Regions from separate parts of the Homo sapiens genome. Here regions 1, 3 and 4 are each linked to region 2. The links come from fine-mapping of genetic effects on gene expression. A gene starts in region 2. Each other region holds a variant in brackets. All regions are shown on one strand. Distances are from middle to middle. Region 1 has its middle 35 kb from the start of TEK. Region 2 holds the start of TEK (TEK receptor tyrosine kinase). Region 3 overlaps TEK (TEK receptor tyrosine kinase). Region 4 has its middle 28 kb from the start of TEK.

The links. PIP is the estimated chance that this variant, and not a neighbour inherited with it, causes the effect. A credible set is the group of variants that fine-mapping cannot tell apart.
Region 1: its variant is the best candidate, but not a certain one, in a credible set for the expression of TEK in whole blood (TOPMed, PIP 0.82).
Region 3: its variant is the best candidate, but not a certain one, in a credible set for the expression of TEK in whole blood (INTERVAL, PIP 0.68).
Region 4: its variant is the best candidate, but not a certain one, in a credible set for the expression of TEK in whole blood (TOPMed, PIP 0.71).

What each region holds. Positions count from the first base shown.
Region 1 is chr9:27,070,725-27,076,876 of GRCh38, reverse strand. No RefSeq gene overlaps it. Among named protein-coding and RNA genes, the nearest start is that of TEK, 35 kb to the left of the region's middle. The variant T/G (reference allele first, on the strand shown) is at 2,855.
Region 2 is chr9:27,106,674-27,112,825 of GRCh38, reverse strand. TEK (TEK receptor tyrosine kinase) reads right to left here and starts at 3,601. Exons shown (of 23, transcript NM_000459.5): 1 at 3,184-3,601. The coding sequence starts at 3,235.
Region 3 is chr9:27,224,031-27,230,182 of GRCh38, reverse strand. It overlaps TEK (TEK receptor tyrosine kinase), which reads right to left. Exons shown (of 23, transcript NM_000459.5): 22 at 1,878-1,977; 23 at 9-1,025. The coding sequence ends at 951. Among named protein-coding and RNA genes, the nearest start is that of EQTN, 70 kb to the left of the region's middle. The variant G/C (reference allele first, on the strand shown) is at 3,382.
Region 4 is chr9:27,077,769-27,083,920 of GRCh38, reverse strand. No RefSeq gene overlaps it. Among named protein-coding and RNA genes, the nearest start is that of TEK, 28 kb to the left of the region's middle. RefSeq lists a silencer at 2,863-3,063. The variant C/G (reference allele first, on the strand shown) is at 3,230.

The DNA of each region.
Region 1 (6,152 bases), 36 kb after region 2:
ACTCCATCACCAAACTATCTCCCACCAAGCTCCGCCTCCAACATTTGGGATTACAATTCAACAAGAGATTTGGGCAGGGACGCAAAGCCAAACCATGTCAAAAACAAACAAACAAACAAAAGTTGCTCTTCGGCTTCCTTTGATGGCTCATCCCTTTGCTATAATAAGAATAGAAAGCTCTAAATTCTAAATCCACACTGTCCCACATGCAGCCAATCTCTGTATGTGAACATCAAGCACTTAAGTGTGCGTAGTGTGAACTGAAATGTGCTGCAGGTGTAAAATACACATCAGATCTCAAAGACTTAGAATGAAAGAAGAATGTAGGGGCAGTTGGCAAGATGGCTGGCTAGAAGCAGCTAGTATACATGGCTCTCACGGAGAGGAACAGAAAGGGCTAGTAAATACAACACCTTCAACTGAAACATCCAGGTACTCGTATTGGCATTAATCAGGGGAACAACTCAACCCACAGAGAATGAAGAAAAGCAAGACAGGATAATGGCCACCTGGGAGCAACATGAAGACAGGGTATCCTCTGTCCAGGGAAGTGGTAAGTGAATGAGCAACCCTGGGAGACCATGCTTCTCCCACAGATCTTTGCAACCCTTGGGTCAGTCAGATCTCCTTGTGAACCCACTCCACCAGGGCCTTCTGTCTTCAGTCTGACAGACAGAGCTACATGGAACCTTGGCAGAGCAGCCACTAAGGCACGTGTGGAGACCCTGGAGGCTTAGATACTTGAGCTTTCTGGCAAAAGTAGCTGCAGCTCTGGCAAAGAGGGAGGTTAGACTATTGTACATACCCCTAGGAAAGAGGCTGAATCCAGGGGGCTGAGCAGCGGCAGGCCGCAGGCCTCATTTTCATGGCACCTCACAAGATAAGACCTGTTGGCTTGGAATTGCAGCCAGCTGCCACTAGCAGCATTGCACCCCCCTAAGAAGGAGTTTCCAGGGGGAGGGGTGGGCCACCATCTTTGCTGTTCAGGCACTTTAGCTGTTCTAGCCTTCAGGCTTTGGAGTGTCTGAGCCAACCCGGGGCAGAAGGGGATCCCCCAGCACAGCACAGCTGCTCTACCAAAATACGGACAGACTGCTGCTTTAACTGGGTGGCCAATCCCGTTCCTCCCCGCTGGGCAGGACCTCCCAGCAGGGGCCTCTAGCTACCCCCGACCCAAGCTTTCTAGCTGACAGAGATCTGAATCCCCCTGGCACAGCACTCCCAGAGGGTGGGGCAAGTGTATTAGTCCATTTTCACACTGCTGATAAAGACATACCCAAGACTGAGCAATTTACAAAAGAAAGAGGTTAAATTGGACTTACAGTTCCATGTGGCTGGGGAAGCCTCACAGTCATGGTGGAAGGCAAGGAAGAGCAAGTCACATCTTACGTGGATAGCAGAAGGCAAAAAATGAGAGAGCTTGTGCAGGAGAAAGCCTCTTTTTAAAACCATCAGATCTTGTGAGACTTATTCACTATGACAAGAAAAGCACAGGAAAGATTTGCTCCTGTGATTCAATTACCTCCCACCAGGTCCTTCCCACAACACATGGGAATTCAAGATGAGATGTGGGTGGGGACACAACCAAACCACATCAGCAAGCCACCATCTTTGCTGTTTGGGCAACTTAGCCATTCCAGCCTTTGGGCTTTGAAGTGTCTGAGGTGACTGGGGGCTGCAATGAACCCCCAGGACAGCATGACTGCTCTACCAAAATGTGGCCAGACTGCTTTTTTAAGCAGGTCCTGATCCTGTTCCTCCTCCCTGGACAAGACCTCCCAATCAGGGTCTCCAGCCACTTCCTACAGGTGCCTTTGGGCTGACAGGAGGTCTGTATCTATCTGGGACAAAGCTCCCAGAGAGGACAGGCTGCCATCTTTGCTGTTTTGCAGGCTTCGCTGGTGAGACCCACAGGTTCTGGAAAATCTGAGGTGACTAGGGACTGGAGTAGGCCCCAAGCATACTGCAGAAGCCCTACAGAAAGTGGCCGGACTGTTATGTAGGTGCCCATTCCCATACGTCCTCATCAGGCAGGTCCACCAGGCCTGGGCCTCCAGCCATCCCCTGCCACAGCTATCAAACCAGTACCAACTCAGCAACTCCATGGACAGAGCCTCCAGGGCAACTGAAAGCCTCTCTGCCACTGCCTCTGCAGTGGAACTGCCCTTGCCACCGTTGGACTAATGAAGGAACAAAGACCCTAAGTGCCTTATCCACACCTCCAACAAGCTGCAGTTGACCCAAGGAGCAGAGACTAGTCTGCTCCCATGGGTCCCACACATGCCCCACAGCTCATCACCAGACAGGGAACACCTGGCTTGGGCCCTGTACAAACCCTCCATGTTGGGCTGATTGCACTGAATGATTGCTGACCTATATCCCTCTGGGGTGGAGCCCCCATGAGTCAAGCAAATGACCCCTGGCACAACCACTACTAAAATCTCTTCCTCTTCTGCCTCTAAGCTGGGGAAGGAACATAAACACTGAGATCACCCCAGACTGGCAGTGGGCAGCCCAGGAGTGCCAAGTTGTGAACTACAGCCAGCATTCAAGGGGGAGTGGAACTCACACTTTCAGAGCATTGAAAGGGAACACAGCTGCAACTGTGAGGAAACACAGGGAATCCACACAATTGGGCAAGCGTCAACCAACTGACCAATAAGCCTAAGTGTCACCTACTGGATCACACCCCAAAGTTTCAATACCAAAAATACCTTATTAACATATTTCCCTCTGAAACCAAAGATAAGAAGTCAGCTTCAAATAAAAAGCATAGCTACACAAAGCCTCAGCCCTGTGAAAACATCCAGAAAAGAAGTCTATTGGTTATACTCTATCTACACTGCAGTTAAAG[T/G]AACACCCACGCACAGAGGTGAGAAAGAACCAATACAAGAACTCCAGTGACTCAAATGGCCAGGGTGTCACATATTCTACTAATGACCAAACCAGTTCTCCAAGAGTTCTTAACCAGGCCGAACTGGCTGAAATGACAGAAATAGAATTCAGAATATGGACAGGAACAAAGATCACTGAGATTCAGGAGGATGGCAAAACCCAATCCAAGGAAAATAAGCATCACAATAAAGTGATACAGGAGCTGAAGGACAAAATAGTTGGTACAAAAAAGAACATAATGGGTCTGACAGAGCTTAATAACACAAGAATTTTGCAATGCAATCACAACTACAAACAGCAGAATACACCAAGCTAAGGAAAGAATCTCCAAACTTGAAGATCGGTTCTCTGAAATAAGACAGTCGGACAAAAACAAGGAAAAAAAAGAAAGAACAAAACCCCTGAGAGGTATGGGATTATGTAAATAGGCCAAATCTATGAATCACTGGCATCCCTGAAAGGCAGGGGGAGAAAGCAAACAACTTGGAAAATATATTTCAGGATATCATCCATGAAAACTTCCTCAACGTTGCTACAGAGGCCAACAGTCAAATTCAGGAAATACAGAGAACTCCTGCAAGATTCTACACAAGAAAATCATCCCCCAGGAAAATCTGACATAATTGTCAGATTTTCCATGGTCGAAATGAAAGAAAAAATATTAAAGGCAACTGGAGAGAAAGGGCCGGTCACCTACAAACTGATTCCCATCAGGCTAACAGCAGACCTCTCAGCTGAAACCCTACAAGCCAGAAGAGACAGGGAGACTATTTTCAACATTCTTAAAGAAAAAAAATTTCAACCAAGAATTTCATATCCAGCTGTACTAGTCCATTTTCATGCTGCTAATAAAGACATACCCGAGACTGAGCAATTTACAAAAAAAGAGGTTTAGGCCAGGCGTGGTGGCTCACGCCTGTAATCCCAGCACTTTGGGAGGCCAAGGTGGGCGGATCACGAGGTCAGGAGATCAAGACCATCCTGGCTAACATGGTGAAACCCCGTTTCTACTAAAAATACAAAAAATTAGCCAGGCGCAGTGGCAGGCGCCTGTAGTCCCAGCTACTCGGGAGACTGAGGCAGGAGAATGGCGCGAACCCAGGAGGCGGAGCTTGCAGTGAGCCGAGATAGAGCCACTCCAGTCCAGCCTGGGCGAAACAGCGAGACTCCGTCTCAAAAAAAAAAAAAAAAAAAAAAAAAAAAGAGGTGTAATGGACTCACAGTTCCACATGTCTGGGGAGGCCTCACAATCATGGTGGAAGGTGAAAGGCATCTCACATGGTGGCAGTCAAGAGAGAGGAAGAAGTGAAAGCAAAAACCCCTTAGAAAACCATCAGATCTGGTGAGACTTACTTACTACCATGAGAACAGTATGCGGGAAACTACCCCCACGATTCAATTTTACCTCCCACTGGGTCCCTCCCATAACTCATGGGAATTATGGGAGTATAATTCAAGACAAGATTTCGGTGGGGACACAGAGCCAAACCATATCATTCTGCCCCGGCCCCTCCCAAATCTCATGTCCTTATATTTCAAAACTAATCATGCCTTCGCAACAGTCCCCCAGAGTCTTAACTCATTTCAGCATTAACTGAAAAGTCCACAGTCCAAAGTTTAAAGTTTAAAATTTACAGATTTGGGCTGGACATGGTGGCTCACTCCTGTAATCCCAGCACTTTGGGAAGGCAAGGTGGGCAGATCACTTGAGGTCAGGAGCTCAAGTCTGGCCAACATGGCAAAACTCCATCTCTACTAAAAATACAAAAAATTACCTGGGCGTGGTGGCACTCACCTGTAATCCCAGCTACATGAGAGGCTGAGGCAGGAGAATCACTTGAACCTGGGAGGTGGAGGTTGCAGTGAGCCAAGATCGTGCCATTGCACTCCAGCCTGGGTGACAGAGTGAGACTCCATCTCGAAAAATAAAAATTACATATTTGGCTCACATTTGTAGCTCATATTGCACGCACTGTTCTAAATCATAAGGGCAATATTTTTTCCCGTACAATCAGATAGCTTCACTACCAAGTAGATTTGTTTAAATGAGTTGCAGTATACTTACACATTAAAATATCTTTAATTCAAAATATTTTAAAAGCATTATCTATTTAATCAGCATCTTATTCTATAAGAGTAGATCATTATGTCCCCCATGTTCCAAAGGCAGCACACAGAGATTTAAATGACTGACAACTATAGAAGTTGTACAGGTGCTCTAAGTCTATAGCTAGATTAAATTACAATGCCTTCAATTTTACTTTTTTTTTCTTTTTTGAGATGCAGTCTCGCTCTGTTGCCAGGCTGGAGTGCGGTGGCATGATCTCGGCTCAATGCAACCTCCGCCTCCCGGGTTCAAGCGATTGTCCTGCCTCAGGCTCCAGAGTAGCTGAGACTACAGGTGTGCACCACGACGCCCAGCTAATTTTTTTAATTTTTAGTAGAGATGGCGTTTCACCATGTTGGCCAGGATGGTTTTGATCTCTTGACCTCGTGATCCACCTGCCTTGGCCTCCCAAAGTGTTGGGATTACAGGCGCGAGCCACCGCACCCAGCCTCATTTTACTTTTCTTTGCATACTTCCTTTAGAGAAGCAATGGTCATTTTATCTAAAAAACAAAACAAAACAAAACGTTTGTCTAGAAAAAAGCAAATCATTGATCCTGGGAAAGAGGCTTAACATATGGGAGCTTAAATGATGAATCTCAACAGATTTTCCCTCGATGACAGTAAAAGACGAGAAAAACCTGAATCAATTGCTGCAGTTGGCAAAAGCGTTATAACAGAAAAGCTATCGAAATTCTCACCAATTCCGGTACTCCACAAATAACTCTTGCTGAATTATGTTTACAGAAGGGCAAGTTGGTTGGTTTTCACCAATAAATGTGGTCATCTCCCTCTTTTTCTCTCTCTCTCCATATATATATATATATGATATATATGATATATATATCATATATAGCCATCCATATATTCATATATATGTGTCTATATTTTATATATATCCATCCAACCATCCATCGCCAGAGAACCGAAACCTGGACTGTTTTTTAATAAGCTTCAAAAAGCTCCCTTTTCCCACAGCTAACGTTAAACTCAATGGTGAAAAGCTTTTCCTCTAAGAGATCAGGAACAAAACAAGGATGCTCACTCTCATCACTTCTGTTCAACACAGTACTGGAAGTCCTAGCCAGAGTAATTAGGCAAAATAAAAATAAAAATAAAAAGGCATCCATATAGAAAAAGAAGAAATTCAA
Region 2 (6,152 bases):
AGAACCAGACATTTACCTATTTTGAAATGGTATCTTTTTGTTTTGGTTTTCCACCCTTCCAGCCTAGAACAATCTATTTAAATCCTGATTCTGTGAGCTCACCAGTAAGCCATCTACAGAGAATAAGCAGGTGATACAATCACACAGATATCCTTTGGGGAGATAGAGGCTCAGGAGGCAAACTGATAATTTCAGAAGAATTTAGAGCCCACCCACCTAAATTCCCCAGAGAACATCACATAGTCTTTTGAGATGAACTTAGAAGACTCCTTCCCTCCTGGAGAGACGCCTTGGAAGAACTAGACTCTTCCAGGAAGCTCTCCCAGGGCAGGGCTGAAAGGGAAATGCTGAGACCTAACAAACAATAAAGACAATGCTTGGAAGGGAGCATCTGTGAAAAAAGCAAGCTCCTCCCTCTGAGAATAATTCCAAAGGGTGTCTCCGATCCCAGCTTTCAGACCTCCACCCTTGATTACTCAGACTTGACACTAGCCTTCTGAGACCAGCCCTAACAAGGGGGTTTCATCTGGGAGCACTTCCCTGACCTTACAACTGTTTCCTCTGCCACCCCAGACAAGATGTCTGCTATCTCTGAATCCAGTTGTTATTTAAAATGTCAAGTGACAAGGGCGGGCGTGGTGGCTCATGCCTGTAATCCCAGCACTTTGGGAGGCCGAGGCGGGCGGATCACTTGGGGTCAGGAGTTCGAGACCAGCCTGGCCAACATGGTGAAACCCCGTCTCTACTAAAAATACAACAAATTAGCCAGGCATGGTGGCGCACGCCTGTAGTCCCAGCTACTCGAGAGGCTGAGGCACAGAATCACGTGAACCTGGGAGGCGGAGGTTGCAGTGATCTGAGATCACTCTACTACATTCTAGTCTGGGTGACAGAGCGAGACTCCATCTCAAAAAAAAAAAAAAAAAAGTCAAGTGACACAGTAAAGAGGTATGAAAGCATGAGACTAGAGACTTCCTATTAGATCATTGTTGATCACGTAGAAGATACTATGATAAATCACAGTGATTTTTTTGTTAGTTTTCTACATATACAACTTTTTAAAGAGAACAGCCTGGTTTTATGAGGAAGAGTAGGGAAAAGCTAATATAATAGAACCTGTTTGAAAGCTGAAGTTAGCAATGATTCTCAATTCAGAAAAGGAAAGCAACAGAATCTAGGAGTATTTGTAAGGAGCTTCTGAGAGCTACACATCCCCTCCAGCCCTCTTATGGGTAAACAACTCTGTCATCCAGAGCCACCTTCACTAAAAAAAAGTGGCTTTTTTTTTTTTTCAGTCTGTGGGTTCAGAAAAAAGAAACAAGAAACAACCCACTGGACTAGAGAGATAAACCTTTAAGCCATAAGCCCCTTGCTCCACTGCTTTAGTCTACCAGGAGTTTGACTAGAGGAACGGGCTCCTATGGCTGTGGACATTATCTAGCTGGATTCTTGTTGCAATTATCAAGCCTTGAGCAGTCATGCTCATGGAGGCTTAGACTAGGAATGCAAGCTACGATCAAGACAACAGACCTACCTCAGAAACTAACCTTGCTAGTGTCACCCTTCCTAACAAGAACATGAACCTACTTCCTCTCCTTGGTCCTCTGCCTTTTAAAGGCAGTGCTGTTTTTTCCAGGGATCTGAGGTCTAGACATGGAACAAGTATTTTGGCTACATACCTTTTTGTTTGATTTTATGACAATTCTTCTAAGCCTGTATTGCAAAGTGCTATAACACAGTTGCTTTAGGAGTAAAAAAAGTGAATGAAAACAGTTGTGTGTGTATTAACCTACAAAGTACCTCAGAGAAACTATAGACACCTGGGCTTCACATCACTATAATCCCTGGTATAGAGTAAGTTCCAGATTTCATGTCACTGGTAAATAATGGCACTCAGAAAAAAAAAAATCAAAAATGGAATCATGATAATTATTTGAAGTACATATTATTGGAGAAGTCAACATTATTTAAACAATTTCCACATAAATACTGAAGCCACCTAAAATCTTTTAATTTTTAGCAACTTGTGTTACACATTCTTAAAGAATATTATTAAATTCTCAAAATATTGGTTGTTGAGAGCTATAAAACAAACTGTATTCAACTCAGTTATTTCATTGGATTTGTTTTTTGAATATTTAATAAAATAGTTCAAACACCTAGAAAATATAGCAGATACTTATGTATACTCGAATCAAATTATATTAATATGCCCTATATCCATGAAGTTTAGTGAATTTTCCCAAATTCATCTCCAATATCAATTCGATTTTCGTTATTAAAATTAGAATGTTTTCAAACCGAAGGGGAGAGACTGATGGCAATGATAAATGTATTTGTGATATGTAGTTCAGGTTTGGATACTGCCTTCTACCTATGTCACATAGGCTGAGTGAGCTACAGAGGCACACCACTATCTGGAGTATCTAAGCAATAAACACGCTGAACCCAACACACTGGCCAACCACTCCTTCACTCTACAACAGGCTTCATATACTCTCCTGTGTTAAAGATTTTGGTAACTGCCTAAATTTTTGTTTCATTGGGCCAGTAAACCCTTTATGAATTACTACATGGCAAACATTTTTTAAAATAAAACAAAAATTCTAATAGCCCCAATCTCCCTGACCCTAACTACAAGAAAAAAAAAAAAGCCTACAATTTCATTGCTTTGCTTAAAATAGGATGTAGATATAAAATCTTTTTACAGAAAAGCATCTTTGTTCCCTTTTAACAGTGACAATCTATACACTGCCTTAATTGGGCCCCTGTATTTCTCAGCATGAATTTCATTTTTTACTGAAGATTTTCTTTAAAGCAGGTAAAACCGGTTTGTTCTTTAAAAAAAAAATCAATAAGAAAAACACTCCAGAATGAGGAGCAGGAAAATAATGCATGATAGTAAGGGGATCTCTTCAAATAAGATGATTTAATCGGTCCTCAAAGAGTTTCTAACACAGGGGCCAATCACCCAGAAGACAAACTAGCAAAATCAGTTCATGCCACAGAGCCTTTGCATTTCAATCCTTCCACACATATTGACTGGAGACTCACAGAGAAATGGTGCCTTTGCTACAGCCACCCCTTGTTCATCAGCACTGATGAGATTTGGGGAGAGCACCCAGAAATCACTAACTCTGTTTTTTAAAATACTAAATTAAAAAAAATAAAGCCAAACCTTACCAGAAAGGAGCAAGCTGACTCCACAGAGAACTAAGCTGGCTAAAGAGTCCATGCTTCCCCAAATCTCTCCATCCAGTTTCCACAAATGTGCATGAGGTCCCAAGGATCCTTTCAAAAACCCAGCGGTTTGTGACTTTCCATTAGCATCGTCCTACTACGTCTTGTTTACAAGTTAGAGGCAAGAAGGAACAGCACAGAAGCAGGCTGTAACAGTCTCATTTCTGTCTGAGCACAGGGAGTTTTAAGTTCCTTTTTCCTGTTTCCTTTGTAGATTAGGATGGGAAAGGCTGTATCTTAAAGGCATTTGGTATCAGCAGGGCTGGGGGCACTCAAGCCCTATCCATCTCGCAATTCATCAAAACACTTATCTGTTGCTGTTGCTTCTGCTGCTGCTTTTGCTGCTGCTGTAGGGGCAGAGGAATTTTTGTTGGAAGTGTGGGTCCCGGTCAGCATTTTCAGAAACAATAGGGGTATCCTCTCATAGGCGGGAAACTGAGAATAACAAGCCCTCCACCTATGTATGGTATGCGATGATGACCAATCCTTCTCAGACTTCTAACAGCTCTCCCGGGGCTACTGGGATCTCTGACAGAAGGAGCTTTTGGGTGTGGGAAGCCGTTTTGGCTTTTGTTTTCTCATTTTAACCCACATGGTTTGAATTGGGAGAAGAAGGTTTCCGTGATGAGAAAATACAACCTGAAAAGCAATTAATTTCAGTGAGCACCGGTGAGGTCAATGCTCAATGTAGCCCCAAGAGACCAGAGTCCAAAATTGTTAGCCTGTTTTCTTTCACACAGATGGCCTGTTGGTTGGCCATTAGCCCAAAGATACCCATGTTGCCGGCTATAGCTTTAATTTTCATTAACAATTCATCTAAAGGTGATCAAATTTCTTGAAGAAGTTGGCATAGAAGGATTTTGGTAATGAGAAAGATTTGGTAGTCATTGAGCAATGGTGTTTCAGAAGCAAATTATATATAACATTTAAAAACTAATCTGTGTAAAAACACAAACATACAGGATTAGATTGGGATAAAAATGGTGCTCATGAGAGCAAAGAGAGTTCATGGACCAAAATGAAAATAGCCATGGAATGTACAATATCTAGAATGAGGTCAGAGACCCTACACTTATCCAGATAATTACTCCACAATATGAATTATGACATTAGATTAGAGAGTATACACTTTGCTCATCATCGACCTTCATGCCTGAGGAAATCATTATACTCCTCCTTTTCCTACCCACCAGAGGAAAAGGCAGATGCAGCTAGTCTTGACTAATTTCTGTCCCAGGTTTTATCACATCGATGATGATCTTAAGAACCAATTAATGTTTCCAGTTTGCAGGTGTGAAAAAGCCCAGGTTCTGTCTGCAAACAGAACTGGGTTCAAATACTGGCTCAGCCACATGTGTAGCTGAGAAAAGTTACTTAGTCTTTTTGAGCCTCAGTTTCAACAGCTGTGAAATGGCAAAAATATCTCCTTCCCAGGTGTTTTGAGAGGAATAAATGAGGTTTAAAAATATAAAACCATTTGGTACTATGCCTAGTTCTTTGAAGGTTCTCATTAAATGTTAATAAGTTTATTTTCTTTCATCTTTCCATTCAGTCTCAATTTAAATTCCAAGAGCTTCTACTAAAAAGCTATTTTCTATTCCTATGAGATGACTTTAAATTTGTCATCACGAAAAAAAAAAACAAAAACAGTGGGCCTGGCACAGTGGCTCACGCCTATAATCCCAGCACTTTGGGAGTGGATCACCTGAGGTCAGGAGTTTGAGACCAGCCTGGCCAACATGGCAAAACCCCATCTCTACTAAAAATACAAAATTTAGCTGTGCTTGCTGGCGTGCACCTGTAACCCCAGCTACTCTGGAGGCTGAGGCAGGAGAATTGTTTGAACCTGGGAGGCAGAGGTTGCAGTGAGCCGAGATCGTGCCACTGCACTCCAGCCTGGGTGACAGAGCAAGACTCTGTCTAAAAAAAAAAAAAAAAAAAAGAAAAAAAAGAAAGAAAAATGAAGTTCCACACAGGCTAAGTTACTTGCTCTGCTGTGAGTAGCAGAGGTAATAATATCTGAATCCTGAGCTCTGGACCTCCAATTTTTCCCTTGTTTCATAGTTGAAAAGTAGATCAAGAGTAATGTAGGACATCACAAACACCAGCAGGGTACACCTAGACCTTACAGAAGTATTTGAAATGAAACTTTGACAGATAAGAATAGTTTGGTGACACTGAGAAGTGCGGTCAGTTCTTAGTGTGCTTCTGAAATAACTAATGTCAGGATCGGTGGGTGCTGTATTAATTCACTTCAGGAAAATGAAAGGGGCCTCCTCATGAGTCAAGCTCATTCCATTTAATTTGATTTTTCCAGACATACCTACAGTAAAAGCATAAAGAAAACCAAACCAAACTAAACAAACAAACAAGGCTCTTGGCTGATTCTTCATTTTCTATTTCCTGCTTTTTGCACTCAATACATGAAAAACACTATAGACAACATTAAAAGTCTTTGAGACTAATTAACAAAGGTATCAATAGATAACAAAACGGTTTTTCTGAAAGAGGTGGAAAATAACTTACATAATACTACTATACACTGGTATCACATGTCAAGAGGTCAACATCACAAACACAAAGCAAAAGCCTTGTATGCATACCCTTTGGCCCAGAAAATCCAGTTTTTTTTTTTTTTGAAATAGAGTCTCACTCTGTCGCCCAGGCTGGAGTGCAGTGGCACTATCTCGGCTCACTGCAACGTCCGCCTCCTGGGTTCAAGCGATTCTCCTGCCTCAGCCTCCTGAGTAGCTGGAATTACAGGCGTGCACCACCACACCCGGCTAATTTTTATACTTTTTAGTAGAGATGGGGTTTCACCATATTGGCCAGGATGGTCTTGAACTCCTAACCTCATGATCCACCCCCCCCCCCCCTTGGCCTCCCAAAGTGCTGGGATTACAGGTGTAAGC
Region 3 (6,152 bases), 120 kb before region 2:
CTCCTGGATGAGACGTGAGTAGGCAAGACATTTATTCACTCATGATATATCAGTGCAAAGTGTGCCTACAGTATACAAGGTAAACTCACAACTCATCAAAACTAAAACTTTTTACAATGTGCAATACATGTAGGGATATTAATTCAATATATAAATGTCACATGTCTCCCAAATGTCACCCAGGCTTTCTGTTATTTCTTAAAATATACAAGTCAATATTACCAGAGAAAAGAAAAGAAAATCCCATTATTTTATCCTAAACTTATGTATACTTCTCTAAAGATTCTTAGGCTTGTAAGCAATGAGATTTAAGTCTATTTTTAGATGTTAGCATCCTGGACTGACTTGCAGGCTGTGGAAACACAAGACAGAGTGGTCACATGACTAAATGAAACGGGACTGGCTGCTACAGGTGAGGGATAAAATTGAGAGAGAAGAATCTGATTTATATCACTTAGATTTTTCAGTGTCTTAAATATTAACCTATGACTTGTTAGAATTCATATAGTTCTCTCACTTAACCTGTACTATCAGGGTCATTGTTAGGTTTATTAACAATATTTTACTTTGACACAGGAAAACATTTAATAGCATTCAACATAAAGGTAAATATCAAAATATCTAGGACAACAATGAGTTATGCATTATACTAATTGTACTCACGCCTTCCTATGAAGTCCACATTTTTAAAAAAATATATTATTGCATATGAAACCACAAACAGGCATTCTGATTTCAGCCCATTCTTAAAACAGTATATACAGTCCTATTAGAGTCAGAGCATACTACATAGATCCATGCATGGGATCTACAGTGGTGAAGGTCCCAGGTGTACAGCACATATGTACACTTATATATCACATCCTTTGGCAGAGGCATGTTTTCTCAGCAGGTGTCAAGGGTCTCCCATGCCAGTGAAAGGGAAACAGAGGGTATACAGATGTTCTGTCCTAGGCCGCTTCTTCAGCAGAACAGTCAATTCCTGCATAAGTAAACTTCTCATAAAGCGTGGTATTCACGTAGGTCTGGAAGAATGAAAATGGTTCAGAGACATAGGCTGCTTTGATTCCACCTCTGCCAGCGGCAGTTACAGCAATACCTTGGTTTTCTTAGTTTGTTGCAACTCATATACTAAGCACTTGGGGGATACTTTTCTGTCCTCAGTCCCTCTGTTGTATTTGATGACTTTCTTCCTAAAATGCATCCCCTTGCGTTCTGCAAGTAAGATTTCATACTGTATCCTCAGTTTCTGAGCTTGCCTTTCTCACAGTGTCTTATTGGTACCTCCTAATGTGTTCAGCTTCCCTAGGGTTCCTTCTTCTGGGTTCCTTCCTCTGTCTGAATCTCATTTTCACATCTGTGTGATCTCACCTGCATCTCTAGTTGAATTACCACTTGGGTTTTGATGACTATTTCTTTAAACTGTGTTTACTTTTATTTTGACTCCCAGATCGGTACAGCCAACTTACTTCTAGAAATTTTTATGGAGTTCCTGACCCTCATTATAGTAACCTGCAGGTCAGGCTCTGTTGTCTACTTGCTGTGTGTCCTTGGTCAAGTCACCCACTTCTGAGTCTGTTTCTTCATCTATAAAATTAAAGGGTCAGGCTATATGACGAAAATTCCTTCCAACTCTAATAGGCTAATTCTGTATGTTATTCTAGTGTGTACGTGACTGTATCTTGTATAGAAATCTTATTTCCCCCCAAAATTGTAACTTCTTCAAAGTCGCGGGGGTGGAGGGACATCCTTTGTTTCTATAATACTTAGGGCCATGCCAAGAAGAACTTCTTCAATTATTTCAATGTTTTTTATGAACCACCCTGGGCACATCAGGTATTCCAATTAAAGATCTCCTGCCTGACTTTAATACTTACCTTTCGCTCCTCTAACATTCTGTTTAAGGACACCAATATCTGGGCAAATGATGGCCTCTCATAAGGCTTCTCCCGCCAGCATTGTCTCATTAGATCATACCTTCGAAAGCAAAGAATTAAAGGGTTAATTCTATAACTGTGCTTCAGTCCTAGGCACGGCAGGAAAAGAGAGGAGAGAATGAAGCCACCCAATGCATGGTTATGAAGCTTAACCAAAGTACAGCCCCTAGGAAGTTTCTATGAGGACTCCCACCTCCCTAAGCCAGTCTCATTTCAACTCCTCATAGATTTAGTTCCTACCCTCGGTACTGTTTCTGCAGGACCTTGGTCTCAGCTATTGCAATCATCTAGAAAGAACTGGGTATGTGTCTAGAGCAGCATTTGCCTTGGAATGCTGCATATTTCAAAATGTTAGTGTCTCTTAAAGGGCCCATGCTCAAACTTGTAAAATGCCACCCACATAAAGTCCCTTTAAGAGGCAGGACTTTTAGAAGCACTGTCATTAAAAACAAAAAAATGCCTGTTTAACCAGGTGCTATGGACTGAATGTTCATGCCACCCAAAAATCATGTGTTGAAACCATGTGATGGTGTTTGAAGGTAGGTCCTTTGGGAGGTGATCAGGTCATGAGGGTAGAACCCTCATGAATGGGATTCGTGCTCTTACACAAAAGGCCTCAAAGAGCTCTTTTGCCCCTAGTGCCACGTGAGGACACAGCAGAAAGATGGCCATCTATGAGCTAGGAAATGGCTCATGGCCACCAAATCTGCTAGCGCTTTGATCTTGGATTTCCCAGCCTTCAGAACTGTGAGAAATACATCTCTGTTGTTTATAAGCCACCATGTTTATGGTATGTTGTTACAGCAGCCGGAAATGACTAAGACAACAGGTTTAACACAAAGTTTCCAAAGTAATTGACCGCAGAACTCCTTTCCCCTTGCATCATGTATTTATATCTTGCACAACACGTGAAAACATAGTTTGGGAAACACTGACCTAAGACAGTGCTTACTCAGTTGTGCTCAGAACTACTCTGTTATTAAAATGCAGAATTCTGGAACCTGCCCTAAACTTACAGAATCAATGACTGACAGTGGGGACCAAGAGCCCACATGCTGAACAAATGACTCTGGGGAACCTTATGTGCATGGAAGGCTATCAACCATTGGCTTAGGGTGTCACAGATCCCAGAACAGCTTACACTTTAACATAAGTTTCTTAAAGACTAAAAAATCTTCTCACCCCTTATGAAGTGAATCTCAAAAGGTGGAATTTTAGGGACTGTCTAGTGATGGTCAACTATGTCCAGGTTTTTCCAGGATGGTATGTATGCTTCTTGCTCCAGTGAGATTAACACCCTCCTTCACTCTTAGAAGTAGCTCCATTTAGACAATAAATTATCTGCTCAACCTAGAGCCTTGCAGTCTTCAAACATGCCAGTTAGCTTCTACCACGGATAGTTCTGGGAATGCTGGTATCACTACAGTTCATTATTCTTACCCTT[G/C]GAATAAATCTTACTTTTGAAAGTAATCTTAGCAGAAGCAAGGTTCTAGGCAAGAAAATGTATCTTTATTTTTTTATTATTATACTTTCAGTTCTGGGATACATGTGGAGAACATGCAGGTTTGTTACATATGTATACAAGTGCCATGGTGGTTTGCTGCACCCATCAACCTGTCATCTACATTAGGTATTTCTCCTAATGCTATCCCTCCCCTAGCCCCCACCCCCCGATAGGCGTGTGATATTCCCCTCCCTGTGTCCATGTGTTCTCATCCTTAAACTCCAACTTATGAGTGAGAACATGCAATGTTTGGTCTTCTGTTCTTGTGCTAGTTTCCTGAGAATGTTGGTTTCCAGCTTCATCCATGTCCGTCCAAAGGACAAGAACTCATCCTTTCTTATGGCTGCATAGTATTCCATGGTGTATATGTGCCACGTTTTCTTTATCCAGTTTATCATTGATGGGCATTTGGGTTGGTTCCAAGTCTTTGCTATTGTGAACAGTGCTGCAATAAACATACGTGTGCATGTGTCTTTATAGTAGAATGATTTATAATCCTGTGGGTATATTCCCAGTAATGGGATGGCTGGGTCAAATGGTATTTCTAATTCTAGATCCCTGAGGAATCGCCACACTGACTTCCACAATGGTTGAGCTAATTTACACTCCCACCAACAGTGTAAAAGCATTCCTATTTCTCCACATCCTCTCCAGCATCTGTCATTTCCTGACTTTTTAATGATTGCTATTCTAACTGGTGTGAAATGGCATCTCATTGTGGTTTTGATATGCATTTCTCTAATGACCAGTGATGATGAGCTTTTTTCATGTTTGTTGTCTGCATAAATATCTTCTTTTGAGAAGTGTCTGTCCATATCCTTTGCCCACTTTTTGATGGGGTTGTTTTTTTCTTGTAAATTTGTTGAAGTGCTTTGTAGATTCTGGATATTAGCCCTTTGTCAGAAGGATAGATTGCAAAAATTTTCTCCCATTCTGTAGGTTGCCTGTTCACTCTGATGGTGGTTTCTTTTGCTGTGCAGAAGGTCTTTAGTTTAATTAGATCCCATTTGTCAATTTTGGCTTTTGTTGCCATCGCTTTTGGTGTTTTAGTCATGAAGTCTTTGCCCATGCCTATGTCCTGAATGGTATTGCCCAGGTTTTCTTCTAGGGTTTTTATGGTTTTAGATTTTACGTTTGTCTTTAATCCATCTCGAGTTAATTTTTTATAAGGTGTAAGGAAGGGGTCCAATTTCAGTTTTCTGCATATGGCTAGCCAGTTTTCCCAACGCCATTTATTAAATAGGGAATCCTTTCCCCATTGCTTGTTTTTGTCAGGTTTGTCAAAGATGAGATGGTTGTAGATGTGTGGTGTTATTCCTGAGGCCTCTGTCTTGTTCCTTTGGTCTATATATCTGTTTTAGTACCAGTACCATCCTGTTTTGGTTATTGTAGCCTTGTAGTATAGTTTGAAGTCAGGTAGCTTGATGCCTCCAGTTTTGTTCTTTTTGCTTAGGATTGTCTTGGCTATGCAGGCTCTTTTTTGGTTCCATATGAAATTTAAAGCAGTTTTATCTAATTCTGTGAAGAAAGTCAATGGTAGCTTGATGGGGATAACACTGGGCAGTGTGGCCATTTTCACAATATTGATTCTTCCTGTCCATGAGCATGGAATGTTTTTCCATTTGTTTGTGTCCTCTCTTATTTCCTTGAGCAGTGGTTTGTAGTTCTCCTTGAAGAGGTCCTTCACATCCCTTGTAAGTTGGATTCCTAGATATTTTATTCTCTTTGTAGCAGTTGTGAATGAGAGTTCACTCATGGTTTGGCTCTCTGTTTGTCTGCTATTGGTGTATAGGAATGCTTGTGATTTTTGCACACTGATTTTGTATCCTGAGACTTTGCTGAAGTTGCTTATCAGCTTAAAGAGATTTTGGGCTGAGACAATGGGGTTTTCTAGAAATACAATCATGTCATCTGCAGACAGAGACAGTTTGACTTCCTCTCTTCCTATTTGAATGCCCTTTCTTTCTTTCTCTTGCCTGACTGCCCTGGCCAGAACTTTCAATCCTACGTTGAACAGGAGGGGCGAGAGAGGGCATCCTTGTCTTATGCCGGTTTTCAAAGGGAATGCTTCCAGCTTTTGTCCATTCAGTGTGATACTGGCTGTGGGTTTGTCATAAACAGCTCTTAATATTTTGAGATACGTTCCATCAATACCTAGTTTACTGAGCGTGTTTAGCCTGAGGGGGTGTTGAATTTCCTTGAAGGCTTTTCTCCATCTATTGAGATACATGTGGTTTTTTTCATTGGTTCTGTTTAGATGATGGATTATGTTTATTGATTTGCATATGTTGAACCAGCCTTGCATCCCAAGGATGAAGCAGACTTGATCATGGTGGATAAGCTTTTTGATGTGCTGCTGGATTCTGTTTCCCAGTATTTTATTGAGAATTTTCGCATCAATGTTCATCAGGGATATTGGCCTGAAGTTTTCTTTTTTGTTGTGTCTCTGCCAGGTTTGGGTAACAGGATGATGCTGACCTCATAAAATGAGTTAGGAAAGATCCCTCTTTTTCTATTGTTTGGAATAGTTGCAGAAGGAATGGTACCAGCTCCTCTTTGTACCTGTGGTAGAATTCAGCTGTGGATCCGTCTGGTCCTGGACTTTTTTTGGTAGGTAAGCTATTAATTCTGCCTCAATTTCAGAACTTGTTACTGGTCTTCGACTGGGATTCGACTTCTTCCTGGTTTAAACATAGGAGGATGTATGTGTC
Region 4 (6,152 bases), 29 kb after region 2:
AGGTCATTTAATCCCAATGGTTTGCTATGAGAGAGACATAATTTTTCTTATTTTGTATTTGTTGAAATTGAGAATTAGACAAGGTAGGTGATCTAAGTTTATCCGGCTAACAAGTAGAAGACCCAGGGTTAAAGCCCAGTTGGGCTGACTCCACAATCCATGCTATTAGCCACTATTCTACATGCACTCCCTTTGTTCTGAAACCCAGATTTGCTCTGTTTTGTAACCTTTTCTTCTCCTGCAAAGGTTGTTGTGTGATATCTCAATCCTCTTAGCTGAGGTAAGCCTGACTGTGGGACTCATAGGATGTGCAGTATATTTAGAAAGAAGGAAACCCCATTAAGAAAAACTCTATGATATGTGCTACTTCTCTGCTTTGATCACTCTCAGAATCAGAATCTTGACTATCCAATACAGGGTATAAGTTTCTTAAGTTAGAATTTTATCACAGTAACAAAAATAATCATTCATTTATCCAACAAATATTTGTTGAATACCCGCTACATGCAAAGCATTATTCTAGGGACTGTTGGGAATGATAGGTTCATCCTCCATTATATTCCACGATATACTACAAACTATACACGATTTATAGTAAGGTTATTGTTTAATTTTTTTTTTTTTTTTTGAGATGGAGGAGTCTCACTCTGTCACCCAGACTGGAGTGCAGTGGCACGATCTAGGCTCACTGCAAGCTCTGCCTCCCGGGTTCACGCCATTCTCCTGCTTCAGCCTCCCGAGTAGCTGGGACTACAGGCGCTCGCCACCTCGCCTGGCTAATTTTTTGGATTTTTAGTAGAGACGGCGTTTCACCGTATTAGCCAGGATGGTCTCGATCTCCTGACCTTGTGGTCCACCCACCTCAGCCTCCCAAAGTGCCGGGATTACAGGCGTGAGCCACCGCGCCCGGCTGGTTACTGTTTAATTTTAACAAAAACTTAGTACTATTATCTAATTTGTTTTTAAATGTCCCTTTGATTAAAAATTTCAAATAACAAATAATATCTTATTTTCGGTTGGTGCAAAAGTAATTGTTGTTTTTGCCATTAAAAGTAATTGCAAAAATCCCTTTAAATTTCTATAAAGTGAAAAGATAAGGCTTAGACTAAGAGAAGATATTTGCAACATAAAACTTCTAAAAGACAAACAATACAATAGAAAATGGGCAATAGATATGAAGAAGATAATTCATAAAAGAATGTCCAATTGTCATATGATCTCATTAGTCATCACAGAAATCCCATTAAAGCAACAATTAGAAAAAAATTTAAAGTTTGAAAATACTGAATCCAGGATTCATAACTGGTGAGAGTGTAAGTCAGCACAACCTCTTTGGGAAGATCTAATTGAAAATGTGCATTCCTTATCTTGCAATTCTATATCTAGGTAATGAAAGCTGTATACATGTGCACAAAAAGTCACCAGTGAGCTCACTGGGGCATTGTAGTAGAGAAAAACGTAAAGCAACTAAACATCAATCTGTAAGACAATTGAAATAATAATGATGTATTCACACAGTGGAATACAATACACAGCAATTAAAATGGAAAAACAGGATCTATAAGAATCAACAGGGATAGCCTTCAATTAAGTAATGTTCAATGGAATAAAGAAAGTAGAGAATGATACCATTTATGTAATTTTTAAGGATATAAAACCATTCCATATTTTGCTTGTAAACACATATATAGAATAAAAGTATAAAAACAGCCTGGAAGGATAAACACCAAATTTAAGGTGGTGACTAATTCTAGACTATGGGAATGAGGAAGAGAACAAAAAGGACATCACCGTATTTGTAATGTCCATTTCTGTTACCATATTTGTAATACCACTCATATGTAAACACAAATTATTAACAATTTGTAAACTCTAGGTAGTGAAAACACTGATGTTTGTTGTAAAATTATTTATATTTACTGAACTTTCAATATTCTTTAATAAAATCAAAAGTATTACTGTGACTGCTCTTGAAGAATGGATTGCAGAGAGGCGAGAGATCAATTCAGGTCCAAGTATAACATGATGGTGGCTTGGATTAGCATTATAATAATGAAATGGAAAAAAATTGACTGATCAAGTGATTTTCTGTAGGTAAAATTTTAGAAGATACTGATGAACGGAATGTAAGGGGTAAGGAGAGAAAGGAATGAAGGATATCTCTGAATTCTAAATCATTTTTTTGTACACAGATTTATTTTCTGTTTGCAGTCTGATCTTGTAAATAGTTCCTCAGTTGGGTAAAAACATGGATAGTATGAAATTATCTGTATAGTCCCATTAAATGTCATTCAAAAAAAGTCACTTGGAACAATTACTGGTTAATAACTTCAGGCATAAATGTAAGAATATTATACTTCCACATCTTGTTGAAAAGTGCTTTATCCACAAATAATGCAAAGGGAACATACTAACAGGGCTTGGGTATTACTGGTCGTATTTCTAGTTAACCATGCTTTTTTATTCCCTGGAGTTCAACCTTCTTTTCTGTTTGGCCAGAACATGACATGTAGGCTAGAGGTGGATAATAGGGACAGAGGCTGGAGAATGGCAGTAATATTCATTTATGCCTTCTTTAGAAAGTGATTGTGAGAAACACATTCACCCATCCAAACTCAAAGAATGGACTTGGAGACACAAAGAACAGTGGAAGCAAGACTTTGCATGGTGGTCTTGCAAGATTGGGTGTCTGGTAGGCAGGCACACCCAATCTCCTAATTTATCTCCTAATGATAAATCAGCATGTAATTTATCTCCTAGCATGCAAGTCCCTGCCCCAGTTCCTCACTGGTCGAGTACTATCGGGTTACAATCTTTCCAGACAAAGCCTAAGTTTTATTACCCCCCTTATAAGGTTATACCCTCCCATCGCCTTCCCAGCTTAAGTTTGATTTCCCAATAATGAAACTTTCTTCCCTTTTATGGGCTGACCTCTCCTTTACAGTCTGTTCGCTTATCGTGACTTTCCAGGTGCACAAGCTGTGTGGTTTTTTACATCCTTAGGCTGGCTGCCAGTAGTTAGATTTATCATGCCTTGAAAATGGACCATTTAAAATGTTTTTTTCACAGTGATTATCCCATAAAATTTGAGAAAATTGATGTGAAATGAAATGGCAGGCCTTGAGGAATCCCTGGAGGTTTCACTTGAATACCTGAGGAAAAAACATTTTACAGTTAGTAAAGGGTTCATGAACCTGGAAGTTGGGTTTATGAAGGGACACTTGATTTA[C/G]TTTTCCAGAATCAGCTAGTATTTGCGCTTTCCACAGAAAGTGTATCTTTACATAAAATTGCGTAATATATTTATTGCCCATGTCTCCCATTAGAATGTAAATTCCAACTGGGTGGGAATTTTTATTGGTGTTGGTCACGTCTTTTTTTTTTTTTTTTTTTTTTTGAGACGGAGTTTTGCTAAGTCGCCCAGGCTAGAGTGCAATGGCACGATCTTGGCTCACTGAAATCTCCACCTCCCAGATTCAAGTGATTCTCCTGCCTCCGCCTTCCAAGTAGCTGGAATTACAGGCATCCGCCATCATGCTTTACACATTTTTGTATTTTTAGTAGAAACGGGGTTTCACCATGTTGGCCAGGCTGGTCTTGAACTCCTGACCTCAGTTGATCCACCACCTCGGCCTCCCAAAGTGCTGGGATTTCAGGCGTGAGCCACAGCACCCGGCCGTGGTCACTTCTTTATTCAATAAGTTTTAGTTAAATGAATTTGATAAATGGAAAGTTTTACTTGCTGATAGGTTGTCTTTATAGTACAAACATATTTTGTTTTACCCATATGATGAACTTTACATCGTTAGTGCTTCCTGTTATTGGCAATGGGATTATGATAAGTATAAGGATGAAAACTATAGCTGGTGAAAAAAAAATAACTGCAGAGGGTTGAGGCATATGTTGTGTTCATGCTCTGCAATGCTTGCTGTATTAGTTTTGTATTGCTGCTGTGATAAAATACCACACATTCCATGACTTAAAGCAGCACAAATTTATTATTTTACAGTTCTGGAAGTCAGAAGGCTGAAATGTGTCTTAGGGTAAAATCCATCTAGAGGCTCTAGGGGAAAATCTGTTTCCTGGCCTTTTTCAGCTTTTAGAGACTGCTGCAATTCTTGACTCACACCCCCTTTCTCCATCTTCAAAGAGCATCACTCCAACCTCTGCTTCTGTTGGTATAGCTTCTCTCTGACTCTGGCCCCCTTGTCTCCCTCTTATAAGGATATTTGTAATTATATTTTGCCAATCTGGATAATCCAGAATAATCTCTCCATCTCAAGACCCTTAAGTTGATCACATTTGTAGTCCGTCTTGCCATGGAAGGTAACATATTTGCAGGTTCTAGGGATTTGGATGTGAACATTTTTTGAAGGGGGAACTGTTCACATCCAAATCCCTAGAACCTGCAAAGATGTTGTCTTCCATGGCTATTCTGGTTTACCACCACCATTTAGAAATTTCACTTGCATTGAAATTTTCACTCTTTGCTCATCCACTACTGTTGCTTCAACGGCAAAAATACTGAAAAATTCTGAAAATTTACAGGCACTCAGCAGAGTTTCACCCTGAATCAAAAAAATTTATTCCTATCTCAGCTGAGAAGTTCCTCATTATCTTGATAATAAATGGGAGGAAGGGAGAACATTATGTCTTTTATCAACTATTTTAAAAGATTGAAATATAAGTTATAAACAATAATTGTCAAGTTGTAAGGCAGGTTTGCACCTCACCTGGCATTTCTTACCTTCTAAACATGCTGAAATTTTCTTTTCAGTTACATTCAAATGTGTGTTGTGCTTCAAAGCAGCAAACTTGGTAGGGCAGGCTTTTAATCACAAGGATGTTGCTTTTATTCTCAACATTTTTATAGTTTCTTTTTTTGAATTGTCTTTAGAGACAGTTCACTAGACACGCAGGAAAACATGGCTCATTATTTTAAGGTCACAAGGTACTTTGCTTGCTCTGTCTTCTTCCCTTCCCCATTGTTTTAGTCTAGTTAGCCTCATCTCCACTCCTTCCTCTGCTGATATTAGTGCCAGAGATCTGTGAGGTTGAGAGGAAGGCCTGGGGAGCCCAGAGTGTAGCTGGGAAGGGAGCAGGAAGAGCCTCACAAAGGGCCTACAAAGTAACAAACTCTAATGTACATTTGTGTGATCCAGTTCATTTTACATACTATTAATAAGTTGCTTGAGCATCAGTCATGTCATTAAAATAAATATGTATTGAGAACTGTATGTAATTTAATCTAAACTTTTATTAGTTCCCAATGTAAATATTATCTTAAATAAAAAGGTATACTCAAACAGACTTTTTGATGTATTGCTTTTTAACAGGAGAGGTGGGATCAGTAAAGGAGAGACTGGAAAAATGTTGGAAATTTTCTGTACTGACTCTTCTCAAAGTATGTTTCAGTTTAGAGATTTTCTTAGAACAGCTCTATGATTTGAAGCTTTTCAACTTCAGTAATGAAAGTTTACTAGTTACGTAGGTACACGGATAAATTTAAAACATTTTAATAATGACATCATATGAAATATTTATACCATATAATACAGGCTACAAATATTTTTGAATACTGGAGTTATTAAATGTAAACACAATTTACAAACCTTCTGATATTTTCAGTTTTTGAATTTACAAAATATTTGGACAGATTCTTTCAGAGGCCCCATTCAGAAGAAAGTTTCTAAAATATTTGATATATATATATATATATATATATATATATACACAGACATATAATATTTTCCTCATAAACCAATTAATATTACTAGTCGATAAAATATATTTGTTATATATATACAGACATATAATATTTTCCTCATAAACCAATTGAGATTACTATTTAATAAAATATGTCCAGCCAGGCGCAGTGGCTCACACCTGTAATCCCAGCACTTTTGGAGGCCGAGGCGGGCGGATCATGAGGTCAGGAGATTGAGACCATCCTGGCTAACACAGTGAAACCCGTCTCTACTAAAAATACAAAAAATTAGCCAGGCGTGGTGGCGGGCGCCTGTAGTCTCAGCCACTTGGGAGGCTGAGGCAGGAGAATGGCGTGAACCCGAGAGGTGGAGCTTGCACTGAGCCGAGATCGTGCCACTGCATTCCAGCCTGGGCGACAGAGCGAGACTCTGTCTCAAAACACATAA